Linked DNA regions of Homo sapiens. The protein of the gene in region 3 interacts with the protein of the main gene of each other region in a pairwise test. Each region holds a gene or a part of one and is shown on either strand. Other genes may lie near its edges.

Evidence for each region.
Region 1: the proteins of GOLGA2 (region 3) and CCDC120 interact in binary tests that used the Homo sapiens proteins (3 or more experiments, as listed by UniProt).
Region 2: the proteins of GOLGA2 (region 3) and ALKBH3 interact in binary tests that used the Homo sapiens proteins (3 or more experiments, as listed by UniProt).
Region 4: the proteins of GOLGA2 (region 3) and MID2 interact in binary tests that used the Homo sapiens proteins (3 or more experiments, as listed by UniProt).
Region 5: the proteins of GOLGA2 (region 3) and ZBTB42 interact in binary tests that used the Homo sapiens proteins (3 or more experiments, as listed by UniProt).
Region 6: the proteins of GOLGA2 (region 3) and SAMD4A interact in binary tests that used the Homo sapiens proteins (3 or more experiments, as listed by UniProt).
Region 7: the proteins of GOLGA2 (region 3) and LIMS2 interact in binary tests that used the Homo sapiens proteins (3 or more experiments, as listed by UniProt).

What each region holds. Positions count from the first base shown.
Region 1 is NC_000023.11:49,061,504-49,065,815, reverse strand, and holds part of CCDC120 (coiled-coil domain-containing protein 120), read right to left. Parts: intron 3,858-4,312; 5' UTR 3,775-3,857; coding exon 3,712-3,774; exon of another isoform or gene 3,699-3,711; intron 3,582-3,698; coding exon 3,491-3,581; intron 3,349-3,490; coding exon 3,215-3,348; intron 1,956-3,214; coding exon 1,815-1,955; intron 1,447-1,814; coding exon 1,152-1,446; intron 781-1,151; coding exon 718-780; intron 363-717; coding exon 188-362; intron 70-187; coding exon 1-69. UniProt on the Homo sapiens protein: Centriolar protein required for centriole subdistal appendage assembly and microtubule anchoring in interphase cells. Together with CCDC68, cooperate with subdistal appendage components ODF2, NIN and CEP170 for hierarchical subdistal appendage assembly.
Region 2 is NC_000011.10:43,901,015-43,905,326, forward strand, and holds part of ALKBH3 (alpha-ketoglutarate-dependent dioxygenase alkB homolog 3), read left to right. Parts: intron 1-501; coding exon 502-711; intron 712-4,312. UniProt on the Homo sapiens protein: Dioxygenase that mediates demethylation of DNA and RNA containing 1-methyladenosine (m1A). Repairs alkylated DNA containing 1-methyladenosine (m1A) and 3-methylcytosine (m3C) by oxidative demethylation. Has a strong preference for single-stranded DNA.
Region 3 is NC_000009.12:128,262,508-128,266,007, forward strand, and holds part of GOLGA2 (golgin subfamily A member 2), read right to left. Parts: coding exon 3,463-3,500; intron 3,375-3,462; coding exon 3,281-3,374; intron 3,185-3,280; coding exon 3,078-3,184; intron 586-3,077; coding exon 527-585; intron 198-526; coding exon 56-197; intron 1-55. UniProt on the Homo sapiens protein: Peripheral membrane component of the cis-Golgi stack that acts as a membrane skeleton that maintains the structure of the Golgi apparatus, and as a vesicle thether that facilitates vesicle fusion to the Golgi membrane.
Region 4 is NC_000023.11:107,928,994-107,932,441, reverse strand, and holds the end of MID2 (probable E3 ubiquitin-protein ligase MID2), read right to left. Parts: 3' UTR 805-3,448; downstream 1-804. UniProt on the Homo sapiens protein: E3 ubiquitin ligase that plays a role in microtubule stabilization. Mediates the 'Lys-48'-linked polyubiquitination of LRRK2 to drive its localization to microtubules and its proteasomal degradation in neurons.
Region 5 is NC_000014.9:104,799,917-104,804,712, forward strand, and holds ZBTB42 (zinc finger and BTB domain-containing protein 42), read left to right. Parts: upstream 1-1,184; 5' UTR 1,185-1,281; coding exon 1,282-2,550; 3' UTR 2,551-4,796. UniProt on the Homo sapiens protein: Transcriptional repressor. Specifically binds DNA and probably acts by recruiting chromatin remodeling multiprotein complexes.
Region 6 is NC_000014.9:54,569,871-54,574,182, reverse strand, and holds part of SAMD4A (protein Smaug homolog 1), read right to left. Parts: intron 1-4,312. UniProt on the Homo sapiens protein: Acts as a translational repressor of SRE-containing messengers.
Region 7 is NC_000002.12:127,654,557-127,658,868, forward strand, and holds part of LIMS2 (LIM and senescent cell antigen-like-containing domain protein 2), read right to left. Parts: intron 3,661-4,312; exon of another isoform or gene 3,474-3,660; coding exon of another isoform or gene 3,406-3,473; intron 3,007-3,405; coding exon 2,847-3,006; intron 341-2,846; coding exon 274-340; intron 1-273. UniProt on the Homo sapiens protein: Adapter protein in a cytoplasmic complex linking beta-integrins to the actin cytoskeleton, bridges the complex to cell surface receptor tyrosine kinases and growth factor receptors. Plays a role in modulating cell spreading and migration.

The DNA.
Region 1 (4,312 bases), on a different chromosome or scaffold from region 3:
AGGACAGGGGTGGCAGGCACACTTCGCCCCTCAAAACTGGAGGCACTCCTGGGCAGCGAGCGTGTGGGGCTAGACAGAGACAGGCAGGCCTAGGTTAGAGACTGTACCCACCAGCAGACCCTCTGCCAGCCCAGGCTTGCTATCCCATTCCCAGCTCCTGCGGAGGGGAGGAGGGGCTCATTCTCACCTGGTGGGGCTGGCCACAGAGTTCCGCCGGCTCTTCAGATCCCCATAAAGATCTGATGGAGGTGGTTTCCATGGGGTTCGCCGCTCAGGGCTCCCCCCAGATACTGCCCGCAGCTGGTCCCAAGCCTTGGGTGGTGAGGGGCGCTCGGCCAGAGAGAAGCAGCCATGGGGCTCCTCTGAGTGGAAGAGAGCAAGTGGGATAGAATTCAATGAGGGGGGCCCAGAGGGGGCAGGACAGGCTGGGGGGCAAGGCCATGGGGAGGGGCAAAGTGCTGGGACAGGTTAAGCAGGCTGAGGAGGAACTAAGGCTGACAAGTAGGTTCTGGGGCTGTGGGGCTGGGGTGGGGTGAGGCTAAGAAGATGGGGGACCCATAGGAAGATGGAGCATGGCTAAGGAGAAGCTGAAGCAGCACAGGAGGGGCTGGGCATCAAAGGATGGGCTGATCATGCAGGATGTGGTCGGATGAATAAAGGGGATGGGCTAAAGGGACGTAGGAGTCGGGGGCAGGTTTGGGGGATAGGAGTCCTCACCGTTGTCATGGCTGGCCCCAGACTCTGAGAGGGAGCTGCTCTCTGAGTGCAGAACTACGTCCTCTACAGGTGAGAGGGGGAGAAGTGGGCCTCTCACTCCCAGGCCTGGGTGCTGCCCCCTTACACCACTGGGTGGGCACCTCTACTTGGGCCACCTTCTGGCCAGTTTCCGCCTCATCCTGTTCCTGTCCCAAGAATCTGCTTTTACCAGAGCCCAAGACCACCCCAGTTTGGTTCCTGACTGTCCTGGCAGATATTCATCAGTCCCCCACAGTTTGTCCTTTCCGGTAAGCCAGTTTGTCACAACTCTTCTCACGGGTTGGGCCACTTGAGTTGTGCCTACCTCCCGGTTTTCACCGGCCAGTCACCCATCCCAGCCCTACCACGTCCATTTGCCAGTGTCCACTCTCCCACCCTCACCAGGGGATGCTCACCTTGGCTGAGCTGAGCAAGACGCATGCCCAGGCAGACTCCCTGGGTGGTGATCACTGACCCCGTGGACAGTGGCAGTGGCTGGGGCAGCGGGAGCACTGGGAGGCCAAGGCGGGCCCGGACATCCCTGAGCTGCTCCTCTAGCTCATGCAGCCTCCTCAGTGCATCTGCCTGGACCTGGCGCCGGCGCCGGCGCTGCTCGGTGCTCAGATCAGGGGCCAAGGCCAGGCGGCGGGCGGCCGCCGCGATCTGCTGTTGCACTGACACCTCGCGTTCCAGGGCCTCAAGAGCCAGCTCCTGTTGGGCCCACCCAAATGTTGGAAATGGCCAGGAACAGGGACCTGGCGGGGCCAAACCCAGTAGAGGCTGGCCTGCACTTCCTGCAGCCTATTCAGACCTATTCACCCCGGGGAGGGGGCGTGTCAGGGCCTCTCTTGGTGAAGGGCTGGGTCTGTTCATCTTCCTTAGGGTTGGAGGCCTGTCCTGACAGTTAGGGACCAGCATCCTCCCTCATCACAGGAAACTAACTCCAGAAGCCCTTTTCCTTCTCATCTTAGCCTCTCCCTCACCTGGCCACAAGCCCCCTCCCCACACCTTCCTCCTGGCTACTCCTCTGTACCTGTCCCCTCTTCCCACCCTCTTGCTCTCCACACCCATCTGCTCACCTCAGCAGGGCACAAGGAGTGGTGTGCTTGGTTGGGGTGCGGTGGAGGGTAGGCGCGGGCTGTGGGGGGCCGCCGGCGGACCAACTGGGGCCGTTCACCAGGCTCTAGTGGGCACTCAGGGGGCAGCTGGCCAGTCAGCTCCTGGTGGGAGGCAGGGGTCAGAGACTACCAAGGGTTAGTTGGAAGGATGGGGTGAAGCATTAATGATCCCAGAAGCTACAGAAGTCCTACCAGGAGCCTGGCCCTGCTCAGCAACCACGCACGATACTCCCCTCCCTCCTACCAGTATCTCCACTAGGCAGGTGTGCCCAAACCTCAGTGGCCCAAACCCCTGGGGTGGTGGGCATGGGAGGCAGGGAGACCTGCTTTGGAATCCAGAATTGTTTTGTTTTTATAAAGGTGATACCATCGAGATCCTAAGTATTATATAACTCACTTCAGGGGCTGTGGCTGCGTGGTCTGAGCTGTAGTATTATTTCCGGCACACTGTGGGCATTCACAGTAAGAGGGGTAAACTGAAACTACAGATCAGCCTGTGCCAGTTCAGGTCAGACTGTGCTGCCAAATTTTGGACAGAACCTGTTTTCTGAGGTTTGTTGGATTTGAAATTGTCAACAGTGGGCCTGTATTACCATATTTTTTTTTTTTGAGGTGGAGTTTTGCTCTTGTTGCCCAGGCTGGAGTGCAATGGCGCAATCTCAGCTCACCGCAACCTCCACCTCCAGGGTTTAAGCGATTCTCCTGCCTCAGCCTCCCAAGTTGCTAGGATCACCACACCCAGCTAATTTTGCTTTTTTTTTTTTTTTTTGAGACAGAGTCTTGCTCTGTCGCCCAGGCTGGAGTGCAGTGGCGCAATCTGGGCTCACTGCAAGCTCCGCCTCCCGGGTTCATGCCATTCTCCTGCCTCAGCCTCCCGAGTAGCTGGAACTATAGGTGCCCGCCACCACGCCTGACTAATTTTTTGTATTTTTAGTAGAGACGGGGTTACACCGTGTTAGCCAGGATGGTCTCGATCTCCTGACATCGTGTTCCGCCCACCTCGGCCTCCCAAAGTGCTGGGATTACAGGCGTGAGCCACCGCGCCCAGCCTAATTTTGCATTTTTAGTAGAGACGGGATTTCTCCATGTTGGTCAGGCTGGTCTGGAACTCCCGACCTCAGGTGATCCACCTGCCTCGGCCTCCCAAAGTGCTGGGATTACAGGCGTGAGCCACAGCGCCCAGCCTATTTCATTCATTCTAACACATCTAAGCTGAGCTTTGAGGAGAAAGTAGGTGACAGGGAATCTACAGCCAAGACAAGTGGTTGAGGAATTGCCACCCAAGTCTGTCTACCTAGGGGCCCCAGCTCCTCACCTCCTCCCAACCTCCCCGCCTGATACCCCTAGGGCCAGGCCCTCACCGCCTCCTGGAGACACACTTTGCGGAGCTCCTGAAGTTTCAGGCTCAGGGCCTCCTGCAGGGTCCGCTGCCGGTCAAGCAGCCCCCGCAGACGCTCTGACTTCACCTGGGGGGCAGCCTCTCCGAACAGGGCAGCTGGACACAGAGGGAGCAAAGATCAGTGGGACAGCCAGGGCATTCTGGAGCAGCTGTGGGGCAAGGGACCAACTCTTCCCGAGCAAGCAGGTGGTGATTCAGAGCAGGGGAGGAGGCAGCAGGAGGGGAAGCAGCCACCGACCTGGGGCATTGAAGGTAGGAGAGCTGATCAGCTGACCTTTGACTTCCATCTTGGTGCTGTCGAGAGGCCGTGGCTGATGGCTGGACAAAGTCTGGCAGTGACACAAAGGAGCCGTTAAGGAAGCACATCCCATGATACCCCAACCCCCAGCCCTTCCCAGCTTCCCATGCCACAGCGGGGAATAAGGGGTAACCTGGGCCCCACGTGCCTGCTTGACCTGCCCTTTCAGAATCCGTGTGGATGTCTGGACCCACTTGGCCCTGGTACCTTGGTTCCCTTCGCATTGAGTGAGAGCACAGCAAGTGGGGAGCTGGGCGGACTTACAACGCCTCCTCAGAGGCCCATGGGTCACAGCCACGAGTCTTGCCTGGGGAAGGAGAATTAATGGGACAGATTCAACCAACTATAACAACAATGGACACGCAGTCAACACCTGGGTGCCTGCAACAGTTACCTATGATGCCACACTCAATCTTCAGAGCCACCCGGAAAGATTCGTATCCCCATTTTAGAGATGAGGAAAGGAAGGCACAGAGGTGAAATAACTGGCCCATAGCCACAGACATAAACCAGGCCCACCCCTCTGGTCCTACACTCTCGCTCATGAGAACCGCTCTAACTCCACCAACTTCCTCATAAGCTCCCTGGTCCCTCAGGCCTCAGGGCCTTTGCCCAGGCTGTGGATGCTGCCTGAAGTGCTTTCTTCAACCTCTCACCACCCCAGCCCCTGCATCACACTTATCATTCTAGAACTTAATTATCACTTCCACAGTTATATCCTCTCACAAACGGTTGTCCAACAAGAGATTGTGCCTCCTGGAA
Region 2 (4,312 bases), on a different chromosome or scaffold from region 3:
AAAAGCACTTCTCCCCATCAGGATAAAATAGGAATAGAACGAACAGAGGGCCACCCAGCAGGAAAGTTGTTTCACTCTTCAGGCTTCAGTCTGGGTCTGCTGACTACCTAGTGACATATCGGCTTTGCTGCTCCACTTACCACCTTAATGACTTACCAAGGTCACTGCCCTGAAGATACTGATGAAAATACATGGCAAAGGCCATGTATTTGACATGGAAAGGATGAGATGGTTAGATAGATTCTGGTCCTCATGATATTGCTGTACTAAATTTAGTACTTTTATAAAATTGCAGAGATCAACTTGCTTCAAAATAGAAATGATGGGAGGGAATTAAACTACTTTTCTTGCCTTCTGTTTATTGCATTCCATGTGGTTTGCTTATTACATGCCCTGGTTATAACTTGGCTGATTTTGCCCTTTCTTTTCTGTTTTTCCATGCGGCTGTCATTTTGTGTGTAATGCGACTGTCTTGCCCTTTTCTTGGTCTGTGGATTGCAGTGGCACCCTGTGCTGCGCACACTAAAGAACCGCATTGAAGAGAACACTGGCCACACCTTCAACTCCTTACTCTGCAATCTTTATCGCAATGAGAAGGACAGCGTGGACTGGCACAGTGATGATGAACCCTCACTAGGGAGGTGCCCCATTATTGCTTCACTAAGTTTTGGTGCCACACGCACATTTGAGATGAGAAAGAAGCCACCACCAGTGAGTATTCTCTTTTTCTTATGCTCTTCCTGCCTCTTATTAGTCTGTGGAAAAAGTAGAACTCCTAAAAGCTTCTACTTTCAGATTTCGAGCATGGGAATACACATTTTGTTGATGAAACATTTTCAAGTGACTACTTCCCCATGGTTAACTTTTGACTTCCAAAGTGCTCCTTCATTCATTTACAAGTCCAACAAGAATTGGCTGCCTTATGCTAGGTGCTGGCGGCTCATTTCATTGATGATAAACTCCCTGTCCTCCTGGAGATACAGTCTAGTTGGGGTAGATAAATATTGCCTATTACTCAAATAATTGCAATTGTGATCAATGCTGTGAAGGAAAGCCTTAGAAGAATGACTCAAGCTAGTGGGAGGCTAAGGAAGAGGAAGGAGGCTAAGGAGGACGTCCCTGAAGAAACCTTTATTTTAAGTGTTCTTCATGGTAATATGGCCACTTTTCTGAAAGGGAGCATTCACATATGTTTGTTCCTTCTTAGCCTTCTCCTGAAATACAGGTGAATCTAACTCTTTCAGAGAGAGGAAACTCAAGCCAGATTATCAGAGATGGTGATCTGTCCACATTCAGGTAGAAAAACAGTGACCAAAAAATTAATAACGATATAATAACTTCAGTTTCCACCCCAGCGCTTACCTCAATTATGTGACATTTGAGGAATACTAGGGTTATTAATTTTTTAAAAAATCAAAACTGTAGTCCCTTACGACTAAGAAAGATAGTAATGCCAAGAAAAGAGCCAATTATTTTATTTTCAGTGTTTGTGTCTCTTCCTAACCAGCATTCCTGATCATTCAGCTTATAATGTTAAACCAGACCCAGTCGGTGTGGAAGGCCAACCAACAGGCTGTTTTTTTGTTTGCTTGTTTTTTAGAGAGGGAGTCTCACTCTGTCGCCCAGGCTGGAGTGCAAGTGGCACGATCTCGGCTCACTGCAACCTCTGCCTCCCCAGTTCAAGCGATTCACTTGCGTTAGCCTCCCGAGTAGCTGGGATTACAGGCGTGTGCCAGGACCCCTGGCTAATTTTTGTATTTTTAGGAGAGATGGGGTTTTGCCATGTTGGCCAGGCTGTTCTCAAACTCCTGACCTCAGGTGATTCGCCCACCTCGGCCTCCCAAAGTGCTGGGATTACAGGCATGAGCCACTGCACCTGGCCCAGGCTGATTTTTGAATAGACCTAAGCCAGACCACATCATTATTAGTTCTTGTGTCAGTTCTTCGTCAGATATACTTCCATAAGAATACAGTTAACAGACTGAGTGTTTTCCTGGTGTGTATTGGGTTTCCATGCATGGTATTTTTAAAGCATATTGTGTGATTTTGCATATATGCCATTAAGTACCTTTTGTTGGTATAATTTCCATTGATTAGGCTTTCTTTGGTTATGTTTACATAAAAAGTTTGATCATTGTTAGGGGATTGGTAGTTGCCGGTGTTTTTTTAAGTGAACTTGCTCTCTAAGCCTTCAGTTACATTGGCAAGCAGCCTTCTCATATACCAAGGAGTACCACTTGAGAATCAGACAAACCAGCTTTTGCTATATTTGTTTTAGATATGATTATACTTCTGTACACAGCTTTCACTCAGTTAAATACCAAGTTCACATGTGTGAAAAATTCATCCTGCCCTTAGTAAGACTCCTGTTGCATAAATAGTAGAGAGACACTGTATCAGTCTCATTATTTAAGTTCAGACCCTCTTCTCAAGCCGGATGTATGGAACCTCAGCTTGTTGCCAGGAGTGGTCCTGAGACCGGGGGCCGTAGCAGTGAATGAGTAAGATGAAATTGTCTTTCTCCTCCTGGAGCTCATCTAGCATATGCTAGCACTGCGCCTTCCTCCTAGAGTTATCCTTCTGGCCTCCTGATTGGCAAATAAGCTATAGTATATATAGCCTTTGGTATAATAATGGTTTTTAGTTCTTCACACTTACTTTCTTTGTTGCTCAGTATTTAAGTATTCAGTTACTGTTTCTTTACACACATATATTCACCACCACCATGCCCCTTTTTAAAAATTTGGGCCTATTTATAGATTTGAAGCTTAAGAATTCCCTAAGTATGCTTTTTGGATAAATCATTTTACTGTACAAGCAATTTCCAAATATTATGCATTCACAATATTCTGGTGCCCAGAAATACCCCGTTTCTTCTCCCCTCCAGAGAGCTGAATTTCTTCATTTTCTCATATAAAGATATGACATATGGTGATCAAGAGCTATTTCTTGGTAGTACACATCAGTTATGTTATAGGGTAACATGTAGATGGAGAGCATAACTACTACATACATTGTTCCTGTGGGCAAGCATTTGGAACAGCGCTTTATCCTGCCGTGCCCCATGCTGTAGCTTTCTCTTCTCCTCAGCCTTCTTGGAGCCTATTTTGATGAACATGAATGATAATACAGGCCATGAAATACTCAGAAGTGGTAAAGTCCACATAATTGTCTGCCAGTGGCAAGGGAATCTGCGCTATGACGATGGTAGCTGATTTGATTAAAATACTGATCCAATAAGTAAGAAAATTTGCCTGAGATTTTAACAAAGTTGCCTGAGGAAAGGGATTTGGGAAGAAATATAAACATGTTGGTACTTCAGGTTGTTGACTGTAGTAAGTTTTGGCTTCTGGCCTAGTCTTAACTATGATTGAATTTCATGCAGTTTTTGTATATCATCTCAATTCTGGCTTTTGTTTAAGATTGGGAAATTGAATATTAATATGTTTGAAATTATAATCACACATGAGTAAAAAGTGACCTTTTTTCCCCAGAACCTGTAAAGTCCATTTTTGTGTAAACAGGATACAAGTTTAAACTTTTGAAGATTCCTTCAGGTCTCACTAACGGATTTCCAAAAACCTGGGGCTCTACAAATGTAGCTAAACTCGAAGTGCAGAACCCTTTCTTTGAGTTGATGGCCTTGGAAATATACCTTAAAGTGCATCATCTTTATCTTATAAATAATCCTTTTTTCCAAAGGATTGAAAGGAAGCGATTATTGCACATTTTTGTCTACTTTTCTTTATAAACTCAGGTGATGAGAACATGACTCATGATTCATACAGCCCAAGGTAAAGCATAATTTAAAAAGTAAAAATTAGGTTAGTCTTCTGTGTGGGATTTGTAGGAGTCTGACTTCCTGTAACTCTTAGAGACCTATCTCAGTGTGCTACTACAGATTGTAATTTTCATGTCTGTCACCGAGACGTTCAGGGTTTATTAGAGGTTGTGGGAGGGAATCTTTCAAACTCCTATTAGCTTTGACCCATCGGAGGAGAAGTTAATGCCTATTTGACTTGAGTCACAGTTTCGCATCTCAGGCGGACATGGAAGAGTCATGAGATTTCCTGCACTTTGTTCAAATGTGCAGTTTTGAGACAGAAAAGCGTCTGTTTTGGGCCACTTTCAAAGAGAAATAGTCTTGATTTTTTAAAAATTCAAATTCCTCCACCCTTGCAGCAGCTGTTTATTTTGTAGTCTGGCACCTTGAGCAGATCTCCATTAACTGCTGATCTACTGAAAGCTGCCCCAGTTCCACACACTGTATTCCTAACAGTTTCTCTCTGTGCTGAGACGGTAAGGAGATCTT
Region 3 (3,500 bases):
ACCATGGCCCCAGCTGGATGGCGCTCCCACCACCCATGGGGCTGCAGCCTCTTGCCTGTTGAAGCAGGAGTTCCGTCATCTCTAACTTCTTTTGCAATTCTTCCAAGTTAAGCTGCATGCCAGCCTTCTCAGTCACTAGGACCCGAAGCTTCTCTTCCAATTCTGATTTCTCTTGCTTCAGGTCCTCATTGCTTTGGCTATGGCCAGAGGCAGTAGAGAAAGGAATGAACGAAGAACAGAAAGGACTGCTTTGGTGATCCACCCTCTACCCTTGCCCCACAACCACAGAACTGTGGCACTGGAAGGAACCCCAGGAATCAAAAGTCACATGTACAGGCCAGAGAAAAGATACGAGTTACCCAAGGCTACACCATGAGTCAGTGGCACAGCTGGCACTAGAGCTTTGCTGGGCACACATGCACACCTCTATGACTACCTCATCATGCTTACCTGTACCCCCCACCTCCCAGCACACCACCCATGCTGAGGGCCCCCAGACCTCCCATCCCACCATCCCCCATCCTACGTGTTCTTGTATAACTCCAGCCTGAGGGCGTCTCTCTCTTTGGTTAACTCCTTGTTGTACTGTAAATACAGAAAGGTTAAGTCAGGATATAGCAGGCAGAGGAGCAGCTGGCCAACCAGTAACAACAGCTACAGTAAGTACTCCACAGTAACACTTCCTCACTCTCAATCACACTTGACATGTTTTCAAGGCATTTCCAAGCCCATGGTCTCATTTTGTTGTTGCTGTTGTTGTTTTTGAGACAGAGTCTCCCTCTGTCACCCAGGCTGAAGTGCAGTGGTGAGATCTCAGCTCACAACCTCTGCCTCCCTGGTCCAAGTGACTCTCCTGCCTCAGCCTCCTGAGTAGCTGGGACTATAGGCGTGCACCACCATGTCCGGCTAATTTGTTTTGTTTTGTTTTTTCTGAGATGGAGTCTCTGTTGCCCAGGCTGGAGTGCAGTGGCGCAATTTCGGCTCACTGCAAGCTCCGCCTCCCGGGTTCATGCCATTCTCCTGCTTCAGCCTCCTAAGTAGCTGGGACTACAGGCCCCCGCCACCACACCCGGCTAATTTTTTTGTATTTTTAGTAGAGACGAGGTTTCACTGTGTTAGCAAGGATGGTCTCGATCTCCTGACCTTGTGATCCGCCCGTCTCAGCCTCCCAAAGTGCTGGGATTACAGGCGTGAGCCACCATGCCTGGCCTAATTTTTTTATTTTTAATAGAGAGGGGGTTTCAACATGTTGGCCAGGCTGGTCTTGACTCCTGACCTCAAGTGATCCGCCCGCCTCAACTTCCCAAAGTGTTGGGATTACGGCACCCGGCTGGTCTCATTTGTTTTTAAAAAAACTTGGTAAGGGTGGCCGGGTGCGGTGGCTCACGCCTGTAATCCTGGCACTTTGGGAGGCCGAGGGGGACGGATTACGAGATCAGGGGATCGAGACCATCCTGGCTAACACGGTGAAACCCCATCTCTACTAAAAAAAAAAAAAATACAAAAAATTAGCCAGGCGTGGTGGCAGGTGCCTGTAGTCCCAGCTACTCGGGAGGCTGAGGCAGGAGAATGGCATGAACCCGGGAGACAGAGCTTGCAGTGAGCCGAGATGGTGCCACTGCACTCCAGCCTGGGCAACAGAGTGAGACTCCGTCTCAAAAAAAAAGGACTTGGTAAGGGTGGAAGGAACAGGGAGAGAGAGCGAATTTATGTATGTACGTATGTATGTATATATGTATTTATTTGAGATGGAGTCTCCATCTGTCACCCAGGCTGGAGTGCAGTGGCGCCATCTTGGCTCACTGCAACCTCTGCCTCCCGGGTTCATGTGATTCTCCTGCCTCAGGCTCCTGAGTACCTAGGATTACAGGCATGCGCCATCATGCCTGGCTAATTTTTGTTATTATTTATTTATTTATTTATTTATTTATTTATTTTCAGACAGAGTCTCCCTCTGTCACCCAGGCTGGAGGGCAGTGGCACGATCTCAGCTCACCGCAACTTCCGCCCCCGGGTTCAAGCAATTCTCCTGCCTCAGCCTCCCAAGTAGCTGCAATTACAGGGGCACGCCACCACACCTGGCTAATTTTTTGCATTTTTAGTAGACACAGGGTTTTGCTATGTTGGTCAGGCTGGTCTCGAACTCCTGACCTCAGTTGACCCACCTGCCTCGGCCTCCCAAAGTGCTGGGATTACAGGCATGAGCCACCACACCTGGCCAAGATCGAATTTACAGCTGGCTAACAGAGGCCCAGAGAGATCAGATAATATTGCTATTGTTATTATCATTATTACTACCACTGTTTGAACCTTTATTGAATGCTTCACCAGGCACCATGCTAACAATCCCATTTAATCCTCATAACCACCACATGAGACAGTTACTATTATTACCTCTATTTTGTAGATGGACAACACGGAATATTAGAGGTTAAGTGCTTGCCTAAGATCACTTAGACAGAGCTCGGATTTGAACACCCAGGTATATCTGACTCTCTAAGCTCATTTGTTCCCCGAGGGTGGGGGCACAAATAGGAAGGGGGAAATTATCTTTTGTTCAGTTTTTGAAAGGATGATATATTCAGATAGTCCAAAACTCCGAAAGGGCAGAAGGGAAATATCTTCCAGCCGTGCTGTTCCTCTCTCCTGAGTTTGTTATGAATCCATGCAGACACGTTTTATGTATATTGTCATAGTACATAGGTACACATACACACACACGTTCCCTCTCTCTACACAAATGGTAACATACTAAAGATACTCTTCTGTACCTTCACAGTACAAGTACCATATTCCCCCACCTAGGACTTGACCAAGGCCACAGCCAGGTAACGGCACAGCGGGCACTTGGCCTCCGAGCTCTGCGTCCAGTGTTCACTCCCCACAGTGCCCCCAAACTCACCCACAGCAGCTGACTCAGCCCCAGGATGCCTCTAGCAACCACACACAAAAGCAGTGATAAATGGCCCATGCTGCCTTCTAGGCAGGACAGTCAACCCTGCAGAAGGGACCTTTAGGCTCACTCCTCCATCTGGGAAGCCAGTATGCCAGGGGACGGGGCAGGCAGTTGGACTCACCCTGTCTGCCTTCTTCTGCTGCGTGGAGACAGCAGAGAGAGCCCGCTCCAACTCTCCCACACGCCGCCGGGAATACTGCAGGCGGCTGGCCAGATCTTCAGACTCTCCTGGAATGAGAGAGGTTGAGATGGGGCCCAAAGGACTCCCCCTAAAGGCCTGTCAAAGTGCCAGGTTGAAGGATGATGGGGTGCCCAGATTCCCACCTTCTTTCTGCCTGGCAGCATGCTGAGTGTGAGCCAGGGCTGTCTGTAACTCAGCTTTCTCTGATACGAGGATCCCTATGGTCTGAATGTGAACCTTTGGGAGGAAACCCAAGCAAGTGCTGAAAAAGAAGGAAAGAAACATTCTCCAGAGGACAGGACGGAACTTCACACCCTCCACTCACCTGTAACTGCTCCCTTAGGGCTCCCTGCTTTTGGTGGC
Region 4 (3,448 bases), on a different chromosome or scaffold from region 3:
TCTATTCTCAGATGGGGAAACATAAAGAATCCCATATCTGCCCTGTCCTCGCACATTAAATGGAGATGGCCTTTCCAAACATCATCACACACACACACACAAAATATTAAAATTTTAGCTATGGGTAATAGCCTCATATTTGGTATTTGCCTAGGTTGTTCTTCAATTAAACCACTAAACACACAATGTTCCAAATTCTTTTCTCCTTTGAATTTTACTCCTTTTACCTTTGGGCTGTAGTTCTTATAGGCCCCTGGTCTGATGACCTGTTTCAAGTCACTTCTCTAGCTGCCGCCCTTGACTGCCCTGCTTCATTCACTTCATATCGCATGATCCCTTTTAGTCTTAGTGCCACTACAAATCTGATTAAGATATGCCCAATTCTAGCCCTGAGGGACCTCCTGGCTTCCTCCCAGTCTCCTCCTGCAGGCCAGCTGTTTTAACAGTAAGTCAGCTCACTTGCTTCTGGTGCTACCCTAATCTTAATCAATGGGTTCCAGCACTGGGATTTTATTTGTTCTTTAATTCTCAACTTCTGCTCCAATCTCTAAAACTGAATGTGTCATGTTTCCTTGAACCCTATATCTTCATTTCTTTGGTCTTCTTGACCATATCATGCTCCTGAAATCAAAGTCTTCTTGATTGGATTTTGAGCTCCAGACCCCCTGGGTCCTTTCTGTCCAGATCACTACCTATTATATGATCCTTGGTTTCCCCTAGTCACTTACCCAATTCCAGGAGAATCCACGGCCATCTTCCTTTTAGTCCTCCCCCAATTCAACTCCAGCGAGAGACAACAAAGAATTCATGAATACATATATATTTATTTAATTCATAATATAGCATTTTGGATGGGCTGGAATATTGTAGAGAGGGATGAGGCTGTGTAATCCACAGATGCTCATATTTCTGTCACTAGGAGAGACACTATTGGTCCAGAGCTCCCAATACAAACAGGCGTGGGGTAAAGCATTTGATAAAAAATAGTCCAACAATAGTCTAATAAATAGTCTAGCCAATAACAACAATACAGCATATGTCTGAAGCTGGCAGACTACACCATAAAAGGCAGTTTTGTCTGACCTGATGGCAATCAGTTTGGCCAACCTGTAACACACAGCCAAATACAGCCATTGGCTCCAAGGCTGCAGTTGGCTTCAGGAGCTAGAAATAAGTGTAGGAGTGGTTCTTACCTACCTGCCTGACACTCTCCATTCCTTGGAGGAAGCAGTATCAAATATTTGAGTTTATTCAAAAGTCCATCCGTGGATTGCTCCATCTTGGTAGTCATATATAAATATGTAAACCATGGAAGTTTAGAAAATTCACCTAGAGTGTTTTAGCCGAAAAGAACAGATAAGTGATTTTGCTGCAATCTGAATTTCACTGCATCTAAAGATACACATAGAATTGTATAATAAAAACACATCCAGATGCAGTTACTCTTACTTACAAGTAGCCAGAACCTCAATGTGGCATTAAAATTTCTTTCATACTCTCAAAACAGGTTTTACTTTATTTTTGATTATTTTTGTGCTTTCTTCAATAAGACAATATAAAAAGTGGAAACAAGCATAAATTGCAGACATAAAATAATCTTCTGGTAGAAACAGTTGTGGAGAACAGGTTGAGTAGAGCAACAACAACAAAAGCTTATGCAGTCACCTTCTTTGAAAATGTTAAATACAAGTCCTATTCTCTTTGTCCAGCTGGGTTTAGCTAGAGGTAGCCAATTACTTCTCTTAAGGTCCATGGCATTGCCAGGATTCTATAAAAGCCAAGTTAACTGAAGTAAATATCTGGGGCCCATCGCACCCCCACTAAGTACTTTGTCACCATGTTGTATCTTAGAAGTCATTTTTCACTGTTTGACTCAGAATTTGGGACTTCAGAGTCAAACTTCATTGCTTACTCCAAACCCAGTTTAATTCCCCACTTTTTTAAGTAGGCTTAGCTTTGAGTGATTTTTGGCTATAACCGAAATGTAAATCCACCTTCAAACAACAAAGTTTGACAAGACTGAAATGTTACTGAAAACAATGGTGCCATATGCTCCAAAGACATTTCCCCAAGATAACTGCCAAAGAGTTTTTGAGGAGGACAATGATCATTTATTATGTAGGAGCCTTGATATCTCTGCAAAATAGAATTAATACAGCTCAAATGGAGTAGTAACCAAGCTTTTCTGCCCAGGAAGTAACAAACATCACTACGAACATGAGAGTACAAGAGGAAACTTTCATAATGCATTTTTTCATTCATACATTCATTCAATAAACATTAGCCAAGCTAATGTTCCAAGCACTGTGCCAGGTATTAACAATATAACAACAATAAAAGACACAGTCCTTCCTCTCAAGGTGTTCAGTCTAGTAGGGAAGATGATTATTCATTAAAATTTTTGGTGCATCAGAATCATGAGGAGCTTGTCAAAAATGTAAATTCCTGCCTATGTTCTCAGATATTCTGGTTAGGTCAGGAGTGGGAACCCAAAATCAATTCTTTTAACAAACACTAAAGGTGATTCTAACACAGGCGGTGTGAGGACCACACTTTGAAAAACACTGCTATACAATGTGATTATTGCTGAGAGAGGGGGATGCTTGGGGTGTCTTTGGATCTCTAAAGAGGGATGCATCATCAAGTCTAAGGAATAAAGAGTTAGTCTGGTTGAGAGAGATAGAGGTGAGGAAAGGTAGTCCAGGATAGAGTCAAAAGTAGGGTGGGGAAATTAGATCTTTGTCCCAGGGCACTAAAATCTAAAAGACACCACAATAAATGAACAGTTTTGGAGAGCCAAGGACAAGGCAAAGGAAATTGTTCTACTGGAATGGAGGTTGCATTTTCTGTACTTACAGCATTTTCACACTATTCCTTTAATTTAAGAAAAATTTCTGTTGTTTACTCTGGGCATTAAAATTGTTAATCATGTTTCTGCTGCAGGCCCAGAGAATAACTTGTGTGAATAGTTGTGTAAATAGTTAAACTTGGCTACCTTAATCAATGTGAGGGGGAAAGTGGCAAAAGATTAAGCTGTGTAAGCAAACAGGGACATGAAAACCCAGACTCTGTAAGGAGTTGGGACCTTCTACTGGGTGCTAAGGGAGCCAGTGAAAAGTTTGATGAAGGGGAAAAAAATCATTTTTTTTTGTTTAAGAATTTGGGGATATGCCCTAGGGAAGAGACAAAGGTGACTGAGAAATGAAGGAGAAATGAAGGACATACATTTTAAAGCACTGTTACGCTGTATTGGAGCTGGGAGTAAGGAAAGAGATTAATATTTATGGCACACTTAGGAAATGTCAAGCGCTGAGCTAAGACAGTTTACATATGCTATCTTTTTTAACCTTTGAAACAGCCTTGTGAAGTAGACATTATTTTACAGAGGAGGAAACAGGCTCAGAGAAGTGAGGTACTTGTCCTAGGTCACAACGCTAATAAATGGTAC
Region 5 (4,796 bases), on a different chromosome or scaffold from region 3:
GCCCGTTTTCCGTGCCTCTCTGCGCTGGGTCCCCCATAGACGCTGGGCTGGGGTCTGTGGAGAGGGTGGAAGTCCCCGTTCTGGACTCTAGGATCGACATCCTGCTTGAATGTTTGGAAGAGGGTCCCAGCTGAATTAAATTCAAAAAGAGGCTTTCAAGGAAGAAGGAGGTGTCATCTTTGCAAAATTAACGACCCCCAATCCACGCAACCCCTACGCCATCCCAAGGCCGGCGCCCTGCGAGGTGGCGGGAGGCCAGGGTCCCGGGTTTACCCTCGGGTGACTGCCCAACGCGGGCTGGGATACAAGCGGACCCTCGGAAGGGTTCCTTTTGCAGACTGGCGCAGTAAGGACCCCATGCCGGGAAAGGTTGGGAGGTGGGGGACCCAGGCCAAAGCGCCAAGTATCGCGAGAGACCCCCTGCCCCCGCGCAGTGCCCTAAACCCCCCTCACACCCCAGCGCCCCTGCTGGCTGCGCGCGGGGCCCGGCCGGGTGGGGCGGACAGGGAAGGGGGGGCGAGGGTGACCTCAGCGGTTCCGCCGCTCCGGGAAGTCGCTCGGCCCGCCCCCTCCGGCCCCCGCCCCGAGTTTCGCTCTCTCTGGGGCGGGGCGAGCGGCGGGCGGCGCTGGGCCAGCCAAGTTGGAGCGCGCCCCGCCCGGCGCCCTCGCCGTCCCCGCGCCCTCCCCGCCGGGGCGCGCTGCCCGCAGCTCCACGCGCGCCAGGGCCGCCCTGGGGAGGGCGCGCGCGCGAGCGGCGACCGGAGAGGAGCTCGGGGCGGCGGAGGTGAGCGCTGGGGGTGGGCTCCCGGCTCTGCCCGCCCCGCCCGCCCGCCGGCCCTCTCCCCGCTCCCCGCGGCCGCGCTGCCATAAATGGGGCCGGCGGCGGCGGCATCTGGTGGGCCGGGCGGCAGCTGGAGGCGGCGCGGAGGCGTGGGGCGGGTGGCGGCGCAGCCACCCGGGCGTCGGGGACGCCGCGAGCGGGCGGCCGCCCGGGAGTGAAGTTCAGGAGCGCCCGGGCGGGGACGCGCGCAGGTTTGCGCGGCTCCGGCTCCTGCGCCTGAGTCCCGGGACCCGCCCCCGCGGCGGAGCTGCTACTGTTTACTTTCGATCGAGTTTTTCCTGCTCGGGGCAGGTGCCCGCGGCGGCTCTGGACGGGAGGTTGCGCGCGTCACTCCCGCGCCGCTCTTTCCGCGCTGCCTGCAGCCGGGAAGGGCGCTTCGTGGGCGCCTCCAGGCGCGCTGACGGGCGTCCCGTTTGTGCCCAGGTGATGACGGCGGCGGCATGGAGTTCCCTGAGCACGGCGGACGGCTGCTGGGCCGCCTGAGACAGCAGCGCGAGCTGGGCTTCCTATGCGACTGCACCGTGCTGGTGGGCGACGCGCGCTTCCCGGCCCACCGTGCCGTGCTGGCCGCGTGCAGCGTCTACTTCCATCTCTTCTACAGGGACCGGCCCGCGGGCAGTCGCGACACGGTGCGGCTCAACGGCGACATCGTCACGGCGCCCGCCTTCGGCCGCCTACTGGACTTCATGTACGAGGGCCGCCTGGACCTGCGCAGCCTGCCTGTGGAGGACGTCCTGGCAGCCGCCAGCTACCTGCACATGTATGACATCGTCAAGGTCTGCAAGGGCAGGCTCCAGGAGAAGGATCGAAGTCTGGACCCGGGGAACCCTGCCCCTGGGGCAGAACCTGCTCAGCCACCGTGCCCCTGGCCTGTCTGGACCGCGGACCTCTGCCCAGCTGCCCGAAAGGCCAAGCTCCCCCCGTTTGGGGTCAAGGCTGCCCTCCCTCCTCGAGCATCTGGGCCTCCTCCCTGCCAGGTCCCAGAAGAGTCAGACCAGGCCCTGGACCTGTCGTTGAAGTCTGGCCCAAGGCAGGAGCGGGTCCACCCACCGTGCGTCCTCCAGACACCCCTCTGCAGCCAGAGGCAGCCAGGGGCCCAGCCACTGGTGAAGGACGAACGGGACTCACTGTCCGAACAGGAGGAGAGCAGCAGCTCTAGGAGCCCCCACAGTCCCCCGAAGCCACCTCCTGTTCCTGCAGCCAAGGGCCTGGTGGTGGGCTTGCAGCCGCTGCCCCTCAGCGGAGAGGGCAGCCGGGAGCTGGAGCTTGGTGCAGGGCGACTGGCGAGTGAGGACGAGCTGGGGCCTGGTGGGCCCCTCTGCATCTGCCCGTTGTGCAGCAAGCTGTTTCCCAGCTCCCACGTGCTGCAGCTGCACCTCAGTGCCCACTTCCGTGAGCGAGACAGCACCCGGGCCCGGCTCTCACCCGACGGCGTGGCACCCACCTGCCCGCTCTGTGGGAAGACCTTCTCGTGCACATACACACTGAAGAGGCACGAGCGGACACACTCGGGTGAGAAGCCCTATACGTGTGTGCAGTGTGGCAAAAGTTTTCAGTACTCCCACAACCTGAGCCGGCACACCGTAGTGCACACTCGAGAGAAGCCGCATGCCTGCCGGTGGTGTGAGCGCCGTTTCACGCAGTCCGGGGACCTCTACCGCCACGTCCGCAAGTTTCACTGTGGCCTCGTCAAGTCCCTTCTGGTGTGATGCATCCCTGTGGGTCCTGAGGGTGGGGTGGAAGGGAAGGGATGGGCCCTCCCAGGTGGGACACAGCATGGGGTGTGAAGCCTGACCAGGTGGAGGTCCCTGCTTGGGCCAGATGGCTCCACCCTCCTGGCAGAGAGAATGCTGCCTCTTCCTGGAACTTGGCCTCAGACTCGGTAACTTGGGCAGCCTTCCTCCCACCTTGCCTCTCCTTTCCCCTCACTCTCCAACTCATTCCGGCCCCCAGGCTGTGCCCTGCCTAGGCTGTGACACTATCTTCCTCTCCCGTCCCCTCCAGCCAAGTTCTGAGGGGTGTCCAACCAGCACCTGGCTCTGCCCCCGTTTCTCCGTGTGAGATGGCACATCCATCTCCCGGCCCGGGACTTTCCTGACCACCTCTCTGGCAGGCTTGGGGAGGTCTTCATGAGCCTGGCCCCACGCTAGGTGAATTATTCACATGTCAGAAAAGTTGTTGGTGTGCGTCCCAATGGGGCGCTGGGAGGGAACAGGACACTCCTGGGGAGCGGCAGCAGGAACCCCTGCCAGGAAGGCCTGGGGCACAGTGAGTGCCAGCAGGGGCCATCTGGGCACAGCTGGTGTCTCGGGGTGGGGGGGGGGGTGCAGCCCCAGCAGGGATCCTAAGGCAGCAGGAGTAGAGCCAGCTAGAAGCTGAGTGGCTGTGGCATCATTGTCACTCGGGTGGGACGTGGGTCCATGAGAGCGTGCAATTATGACCACACTGTAACTTTGAGCAGAGAAAGTGGGAATTTGGAACTGGATTCTCTTTAGAGCCAGGAAGAGCCTCCTGAGGCGGCCAGATGTCTGCTGGTGGCCGCCCAGCCACATGCTTGTCTGCCTGAGTGCAGGTCTAGGAAGCCTCTGGGCATCCCCCAGGGTGGGGTCTGGGCCGCTGAGCTGTGTGCTGCTGCTGGGCCACCGTGGGCCTTACCTTGACGGTCACTCTGCCTGCTAGGGGGTTTCCCTGGAGCTGTGGGCATTTCCGTGCACTGACTGAGCAGAGGCAAGGGCTGCCCTGTCCGCCAGGGGCAGGGTTTGCGGGCCTTCCTTTCCCCACGGCGAGGCATGGGTGAAAGTGGCCATGGCGGCAGGGTTAGGGGCAGGTGAGGAGTGGGAGTCGCAGCACCCTAGGGGCCTCCATCCGCAGCCTTGGGAGACTGACGCTCCTCGAACATGAATAGAATGTGGAGACCACAACCCCCACACATGTCGTTGGTTCAGGTCGCCCTGCTTTGCCTGCCTAATGGAGCACATCTTGCTGCCAGAACCTCACTGGCCTCTGGGGGTCGGCAGGTGCAGAGCCACCTGGACGCCTGGAGACCACCTGGGATGTTTCCTCTGTGACTGGGAATGGCCTTGACAACAGAGTCCAGCCAAGTCTACGTTATTTTCTCATCTCCTGACAACACTGGATGTCATATTTATTAGTCAGCCTGGTCTGGAGTGAAAGACCGTCCCTAGCGCATCTCCCACGCGCCCTGGGCTCCTGGTGTGCTGGGTGCCAGCCTGGGAGCCCAGCGCTTCTGGGTGATGCCCCAGGGCTCAGAGGCCCTGGATGGCTTTGGTCTCGAGACAGCTGGGGGAGGGGCCCTGCTTCTGATTGTCCTGGGCCCCAGCCCCCACCTCTGCAAGGGATCGGTGTGATGTGCTCCATAATCGGGTGGGGGGTGTGTGTGTGTGTGTGTGTGTGTGTATGTATGCATGCGTCTGGCACATGGCAAGGCCCAAGCCAACCCGGCACCCCGTAGATGGGCAGCTACACTGCCACCCAAGCACGGAGATGTGGCCGCGGCACTGGGTCCCCCAGTGGGTCCCATGGGGGAAGAACTTCCCTTTGCTGGGGTGGGCAGCCTGCCCTGAGCTATCAACACTGGATTTGTTGTCTTCTGCACAGCTACTGTGAAGATAACGTAAGGAGAAGTGGTCAGTTTTCATTTTATAACTGACACAGTTGGGACAAAATATATACGTGTACATATATTTAAGACACTAATTGTGTGGGAGAGTTTAGTAGAGGCCTGTGCAGACACAAGGCAAACAGCGTCAGCAGCGTGGGGGTCTCCTGGGCCAGCTCGGCACCTGTGGGTGCTCTGACCCTGGGGGTGGGGACAGCTCCGTGCTAACCCCAGCAGACAGTTGTTGGTGCACAGTGTCTAGGAGGCGTGGGAATGGGTGCTGTCTTCCTCTTTTCACATCATGGCGACAGTAATAAAGCCCACCTCCAGTGGAAA
Region 6 (4,312 bases), on a different chromosome or scaffold from region 3:
CTACTTGAGAGGAGTAATGTGTATTTCAGCTTTTGACAGGGCCCTGGGCTCTCTGCTGGGGTATTTGGTAAATTTATATGTGCCAAGGAACTCAGTCCCACTTTCTTACCAAATACACTTTGTCAGGTACCATTACAATGGCACTGTATTATCTACTGTGTAAAAGAAACCACTGAATCATTTGATTGCTTTTTCCTAGTAAACTAAGACAAGAAAGCTGTTTTAAAATGTTGATATGTGGAATGGGAACAAAACAATAGAATGAGCTTCCGGGTTCCAGGGAATCCCATGTTCCTACATAAAAGCAGGCAGGTACTCTGAATTCCAAGCTGGCTCTTGGGATGTAGGCAGCAGAGCAAGGCCCAAGCCTCGACTCTAGGCCCCTGTTCTAAAAGTTCTGCTTTCTTTGGGAAAATCCTGCCTCAGGCAGCTTCAATGGAAGCAAAAATAGCTCAGAAGAGATGTCTGCTTCTGCATCTTAATCTATGTGAATTGGATGAGCTCAGTGAGGCCTTGGAAGGAATGATCAGGAGAGATGAAAAGGAAGGAACATACTAAAATCTCAAAGTAGTGATTGTATATTTTAAAAAGGAAAAGAAAAGATTTCTACGAGCACCATACCTTTCCTAGCAAATGAGTTACACAAAGCACTTCACCCACAGATGAAAACCTCCAAATTTCTCCTTGGGTCAAGGAGAAGCAATATTTTCCCTCTTCTCTGGTGTTGTCAATTCTCTCTAGAATTAGACTTCTGTAGGACTGTCTGGGAAGTTTTCAGTTACTTTCAGCCCTTCAACCCTCATCTTGTGTCCTCGTTTGTTTATTTAAACAAAAACAAGTCAATTTGACTGTTGTGAAGTTTCTCTGCCTTTTACTTGCTTTGATGGGGCCTGTTTATAGCATATACTCAATTGTTGAAGGCCGTGAGTGCCCAGGCGATACAACCAAACCCAAATTATTCACAACAAAGAGTACAAATATATGTGACCTGCTACAACTTACAAGCAGCAGTAAACTGCAGGGTCATCCCAGACTGACCCAAAGAAAATTACAAAACCCTAAGTGAAAAGTGCTTCATATATAAAGCCCCTAAATATTTCATTCAGCAAAATGATTTCTTCTTTTCACATTCACCAACTGAAGGAAAAAGTGTTGATAAGTTATTTGGGAAAACTGGGTCAGGGCTGCATATTTTTAGGAGACAGAGTGAAAAAACAAAGCTAAAACATAGAAGGTGGGTCCCAGTAGACTTATATCTTTTTAGGGTTCCAAGTCATCCTCAATCTCTTCTTCATAATCCTTTAAATGAAAAGATTTCTGATCATTTAGAAAAATATTATTCATATCAATTCTATATTAATTAAAGGCAAATTTAAACCTGAGGGATAGAATAGATCCTTGCTGGATCATTAACAAGTAACTTCCGGACAATAACAAGGTTTTATAATCATCATTTCTCAGATAAGAAAACTGAGGCTTAGAAATTATTTAACTAGCCCAGGCTGATTTAAAAATCTGTACTCTAAAAATCTTCTACAACTTATGCCCTCCTATGACTATAAATAGATGGGCACCTGGAGAATACTTTTTTCTCTATTTCCATCCTTCCTTCTCCTGCATATGCCAATGCGGACAGCAACCAAGCTGCCCTTAGAAGATAATGCCACCATGTGGCCAAAATGGAAACTGTCTGAACTAAACTGGCTCTTCCACTCATGCCTCTCAGAGGATCATGCATGTAGGCCCATACATTAAAGGGGATAACACTATCTTCTGCATGGGAGATACCTTCTTGACCCCTCTTTACAATCTTTTTATATTAAAATATTGAACCAACTCCTATTCGCCCCTCAGGACTCAGCTCAAATGTATCTCCTCCTCAGGGAAGTCTTCCCTGATTCCCCAGGCAATAAGTGGCTAGGTTCACAATGCTCCCAGTAGGCCTCTCCTCATACTTTTTATCCCCATATCTATGCTTCAACACCTATGATATTATATTAGTCATTTACCCCACACTAAGAGTATCTATCTGTACTAGGCACTGGACTAGAGTTAAGTTACCTTTACATTTCCATTGCATAACACTGGGTCAGGAAAATAGCAGGCAGTCAGAAAATGTTTGTGGAATGAATAAATGAATGAAAAAACTACAAACAAGATCTTATCCATATCATCAGGAAAACCTCTTCTGCTGCTTTCTTTTTATGCCATTTGTAACCTTAAAAAGTAACGCAGGGTGGAGGATGGCATACTTGTACTACAGAAACCAAAACCATAAAAATCATGGAACCAACATACCCACCCTCTAATGACAGCAAGTTTACACAAATATGGGGTGAGGGTGACAGCCCCTCATCCCATTCTAAATATGTTACCTCCAATACACTATGGATTATCAATTTTTTTAAAAAAGTTAGAATTGTGTCTAGAATAAGAGTAATTACATTCTGAGAGAGAGTCTTCAAGCTCCACAATTATTTTTTTGTCTCAAACATCACCATTTTGGATACCCTTTTCTCTTGTATTTAACTATAAGTATAGGAATTTATTGTCATTTACTTACCACAAACATACACAAATAGTGTATATTTTGTGGGTTACGTTTTTGTGGATTAACTTATAAATCTCTATGAAAAATATATTTCAAGTCCAAGTGACAAAAGCCATAAATAAACAATGCCACAAAGTCTATTTTTCTTTTGGAAACTTCAGGTAAAGTCAGTGGGTTGCATTTTTGCTACTTGTAGGTATCAAATGACCTGCTAGTCCTGGAACTGAGACTGGCCAGAAGTCTCAATGTTCAACTGGAGCAGTAGCTGAAGAGACTTATCTAAGGTTATAAGGATCCTGGGAACAAGACTGTACTAGAGAACTGATCATGACCATATCTGTTAAAAGAAAAACACATACAAATAAATCCATAGGGACTGATTCAATCATTTCTTGGAATCTCCAATGACCATGAGCCTGAGGCAAAGGATGAACCAGTGAATCACTAGATTCTCAATAAATTTAAGAGAATGAAAGCACCAAATTACATCCCACAAATCTCAAATAAATCATGTTTAATGCGCAGGATATCTCACTATTTAAAATCAGTCCTGCATAAAACGAGAGATATATTCATACTATTACTAGTAATTTTTTTTTATTATACTGAGATCGAGTCCCATATATGAATTTGGTTCCCATTTACCAAGTTTTAAAATCTCTAAACACTAGACAAAATGTGAGGGTTTTTTAAATTGATGATTACAAAATAAAGTGATACAAGATGACTTCGGTACAGGAAATCTCAGCAATCCAATGAATGAGTCATTCTGCACAGCCTAGTTTTCTGAATTGGTAAGAGCCTTACACATCAAAACAGCTCAGAGGTTAATTATTCTGGGTGTAAACATTTCCAAAGTATATTGAACATTTCCTTCTCTTCTTAAAGAGTGTATCTAAAAATGTATTATTTCCATAGTTCACCGTTAACAACAGTAAATAGCAATTATTTGTTTATGTTATTATAGAGTGGTGCCTACAAGGTCAATTGAGGGTTCCCACCCTAATATTCCCAAGCCTTCAAAGTTTCTGCCCCAATTCTTGTCTAAAGTTACAGTTTTTCTGTCTCTTTCCAAGTTGTCAGGCTGTCAGGGGTCACTTTTTACTACTGATTACAGCAGTCCCTCACCCCATTCTAAATGTGTTACCCCCAATACACTACGGATTATTTGTCAAATTTTTTAAATGTTAGGATTGTGTCTAGAATAAGAGCAAGTACATTCTGAGAGAGGGCCTGAAATATTCTCTTGGACTTTCATGCTATCTACTCTGGTTGCGAAGTGGACTTTTTGCCCCCTTCCTGGTTCTTGGCTAGTTTCCGGATATGCAGAGAGCCACACTACAGACTCAGGTATGCTATGACAACTCCTGATGCTCTTTATGATCCCCACACTCCGAAAGTAAACCAAATCATCACATGACCTCCTAAGAAATTTCTGTCCTGGCCACACAACAAAACAACTGCAAAGATTTCCATGCAGGCAAAACGTCTAGGCGAAGGATTAATCCAGAAACTGGAGACCAGTTCCTATCTTACACAATGGTTCTATATTTTGTATATCTACATCATTTAGCAGCATGAACAGGTGGGTATCTTATACAAATAAGTATGGCCAAACATGTCTTAAGGGAAAAAAAATGCCAAGTGACTTCAAAAAATTCACAGTTCAATTTTTTAAATTATGAGATTTTTAAAATTAGGCCACCTTATTTTAACATTTAACTGTTTTACTTACTAACCTGGTGGCTGCTCTATTGGGAA
Region 7 (4,312 bases), on a different chromosome or scaffold from region 3:
AGGTCCCTGCTGGCTGGGGAGCACGTGCCTGTCCCCTCTTCGGACCCTCCCAAGCCCTGTCCACCTAGCACTCCGCCTGCTCTCTGCCTGGCCCATGGGCTCCCTCGTGGGATGGTGATGCCTGTAGGGGGCCTGACGGCTGCCGCTCAGAGAGGCAAGGTGGGGAGTTAGGAAAGAGCTGGGCCAGTTCTGTGTACCCCCTCGGCCCCCTGCCCCCCGCCACTGCTGCCCACTTCCCAGGCAGCCCAGGATGTGTACTGTCACCGGCCTTACCGCAGGATCCACAGCACGGAGCAAACAGCATTTGGAAGTCGTGTTCGCAGTACTTCCGGCCTTCAAACTGCAAAGGGGTCGCAGAGAGAGGACAAGCAAACCACCTATCATCCCCATGAGCAGCCCAGGCCCTTGTTGGGTCAGGACCTGACAGCAGGGGATGAGGCACTGAGGCAGGGGCATGCCGGGCTGAGGCTGGAGCAGTGGGTCCCAGGCCTGGCCAGAGAGGACACTGGCCCTTTTGGGATGGTGGGGTGCAAAGGGAGGTGCCCCCGTGGAAGCTGGAGAGGTCCGTGAGGCCACCTGTCAAAGGGCCACTGGTGTCTACTGAGGATCTGGACCCTGTTGGTCCGGAGAACAGGCTGGGGGCGAGGCGGTTTTAAGCCAGGAGGGATGAGATCCAGTCTGAAGTGTAGTGTCACTTGGTCCTATTTCGTATACCTTCTCTGTGGGAGTATCCAGCTCTCTCAGAGGCCATGAAGACCCGGGTATAGGAGACAGAAGGAAGGGAACGCAGGAAGGGCCTGGGCACGGGGAAGTGGGAAGAGCTCAGGGCTGCGGCCAGCAGGAGCCAGTGTGCACACCCTCCAGGCGGCAGCTGCCAGCGAGGGCCCCTGTGCTGGCCACAAGCGGGGCCAAAGCCTGCCTCTGCTTTCCTCTAACAATTGTATTTTCTGTTTTTTAATTGGTTTTTCCCTGTTCTCTAAAATGAGTGTCTTATTAGACTAAACTGGATATAGCCCTACCCAGTGACCTGTAGAGTCAGGAAGGGCTTAAACTCTTTCAGCAATGAAAATCTTCTGGGCACCTGCTGTGTGTGAGAGAGAGAGGCTTTGTTCTGGGCATATGGCCACCCCTCCTAGAGCTTTGCCCACCCCTCCCGCTGCCTCTACACTTAGACAGCATTCCTCAGGAGGCTGAAGACACTGTGAGGAACAGCGGCTCTTGCTCTGCCAGGCGGACCACAGGCCCCACATCCATCCACCAGCCAGTCCCATCAGCTCTACCTTGAAACAGAGCCAGCATCTGACCCCTGGCCACCACCGCCACCACAAGCACAAGTGATGTTCTGGTAAATGCTCAACAGCCAGCTCTCTGGGGCGCAGAGGCAGGCCCTGCTGTGGGGCGTTTGCCAGTGTCCATGGTGTGAATATTCCCGTCATGGCCAACTCCTGGCTGCCAACATGACATCGATGTGGACTTGAGGGGAGATGTGCAGTGGCCACACCAGCACAATGGACAGAAATAACCCCATCAGCATAGACGATAGTAAAGTGGAACAAAATAATTAGCAAGTGGTATGCTTTGAGTATTTGTTACCTTTGTTTTTAATAAAATTGTATCCCATTGTACGCTGATATAATTTAATTTTTAAACAATAACTCTGTTGCCCAACCAGCTCCCAAGATTGTTGATGATTTAACGACTGCTCCTGTGAGCTGGTGGGGGCCCCTTCACTTTCATCTGGGTGATTGCACTAATTCAGCTCCTGGTCCCCCCAGCCTCCTGGCCCAGCCTCTGTTCCTGCCCCGCCTTACATCCTCTCCTCAGCACAGCGGCCACAAGCCTCCTTTTTTTTTTCTTTCTTTTTTTTTTTTTTTTTAGATGGAGTCTTGCTCTGTCCCACAGGCTGGAGTGCAATGGCGCGATCTCGGCTCACTGCAACCTCTGCCTCCCAGGTTCAAGTGATTCTCCTGCCTCAGCCTCCCGAGTAGCTGGGATTACAGGCACCTGCCACCATGCCAGGCTCATTTTTTGTATTTTTAGTACAGACAGGGTTTCACCATGTTGGCCAGGCTGGTCTTGAACTCCTGACCTCAGGTGATCCATCTGCCTCCGCCTCCCAAAGTGCTGGGATTACAGGCGTGAGCCGCCGCGCCCGGCCAGGTCACCTTTTCAAATGTCAGCAGATAGTGTGACTCCTCTGCTCCACACCCCGAGGTGGCTCCTGCCTCTTGCAGAGGGGAAGCCTATGGCTCCGTAGAGGCCCGTGGGGCCAAGCGAGATCCACCTCCCTTTCCTCAGCTCCTGGCCTTCTCCCTCTCATGCCCTCGGCTTCCATCACACCAGTCTTCCTACTGCTCTCCATACACCCCATGTTCTCCCACCACAGGGTATGTGCATATGCGGTGCCCTCTGCCCAGTATGTCTCCCTCCCCTCAGGTGTGCCCAAACCTCACCTTCCCTGAGCACCACCGCACCCCACCCCGGGAACCCTGACCCCCAGGGCATCAGCACCAGCTGGTGGGCCATGCGGTTGCTGTGCTCACTGTCTAGTCCCCAGGGAGGGCAAGCACCACCAGGGCAGGCTCTTCCTGCCCCCAGGGCCTGCCCAGCATCTGCCCAGAGGAGGCTGGTGAAAGGTGGCTCTCTGTTAGCACCCAGGGCACCTGGGGTGCTGTTCACATCTCACAGGTGAAGGATGGGCCCGTGCAGGAGCTCAAGCCTGGTTCTGGGCTGGCTCCAGACCTGGCCCTGTCACCAGTCGGGACCACTGCATGGAGCCCGGCCCACCCGCTCATAGAGGGCAGACTCCGAGCTGGGTCTGAGAAAGCCCTCAGTAGTGTCCTCACCTCATAGAAGAGCCCCTCGGGGAAGGGCCGGAAGCACTGGGCACACACGAAGCAGTGCTCATGGTACAGCTCCCCATTGCTGTTGACAATGCGCTCGGCGGGGGAGAAGCGGGCCTGGCAGCGCTGGCACACGGCGTTGGCCAAGGCGTCCGACATATTGCTGGGGGCAGGAGACAGGAGGAGTGAGTCAGAGCTGGTCAGGGGTGCAGATGGGGCACACGCGGGGGCCTGCGCCCGACAGACACACCTCGTATTAAAAAGTGAAGACGCTCTGCAGGATCAGGAAAATCGCTCTAACCCAGGGTCCAGGCTGCTCAGTGCTTGTAGTGCCCACCCCTTGGGGTGTCAGGGGCCCAGTCAACTCCCACTTGGGCCCCTATTACCCCTTCTTCAGGGACCAGAGAGTCTCGCACACAGAACACCACCCAGCACAGGTGAGCGGCTCTGTATTCACACTCTCATTTAATCCCCAGGGCAATACTGCAGCTACTATTATTATGGCCTCTTCCAGAAAAGGGACCTAAGCCTCAAAGAGGTTGAGTAACTTGCCCAAGCTCACACAGCAGAGCGGGGTCCACACTTGAATCCAGACTGCTCAGTCTTCCATGGTTCCATCCTCTGCACCATGAGTTAGTTTCAAACTGACTGCCTCCAATAAACACATAACCACCCAAACACAGAGCAGGCAAGAGGGTAGCTGGGTGCGTGTGCAGAATGGCTCAAGCCTGTCATCCAGAGCACTGTGGGAGGCCAAGGTGGGCGGATCCCTTGAGCCCAGGAGTTCGAGACCAGCCTGGGCAATATGGCAAGAATCCATCTCTAATAAAAATACAAGAAAACAAAAAAATTAGCCAGGTGTGGTGGTGCAAGCCTGTAGTCTCAGCTACTCTGGAGGCTGAAGTGGGAGGATGGCTTGAGCCTGGGAGGCCGAGGCTGAGTGCCACTGCACTCAGGCCTGGGCAACAGAGCAAGACCCTGTCTCAAAATAAAAAATAAATAAAAAAGACAAGAGTATGAATCTTTGAGACGAGACGGGAGTGTGGTGAGGGGGAGCAAATCTCATCCATACTGGGCACTGCCTGTCCCCAGAGTCAGTGGTGGGTTTCCTTCTGGGAGGGGTGAAATGCGAACTACAGGGGAAAAGCCCACAGTGAGCCAGGCCCGCAATCAGTCCAGCCCCAGGGCCCTTCGGCACAGCCAGGAGGGGCCTTTTAGACTCAAAAACAGGGTCAGGATGTAGTCCTAAACACCCCAACTGCCTCTACGACCTTCAAAGAACCGGATACCCCACACCTTTTGCTAGGAAGGGAGAACGTGGGTTCTGTCTCAAGTGTCAACTCCAGTGGATTCCTGGAAGACTGGGCAGAGAGGGAGCATCAGGCTCGCTGGGGAGTGACGCAACCAGCTGGTAACGTCTGCCTGGTTGCAGCCGGGTGGTGGCAGGACTCGAGTGCAGTGCCTTTGGG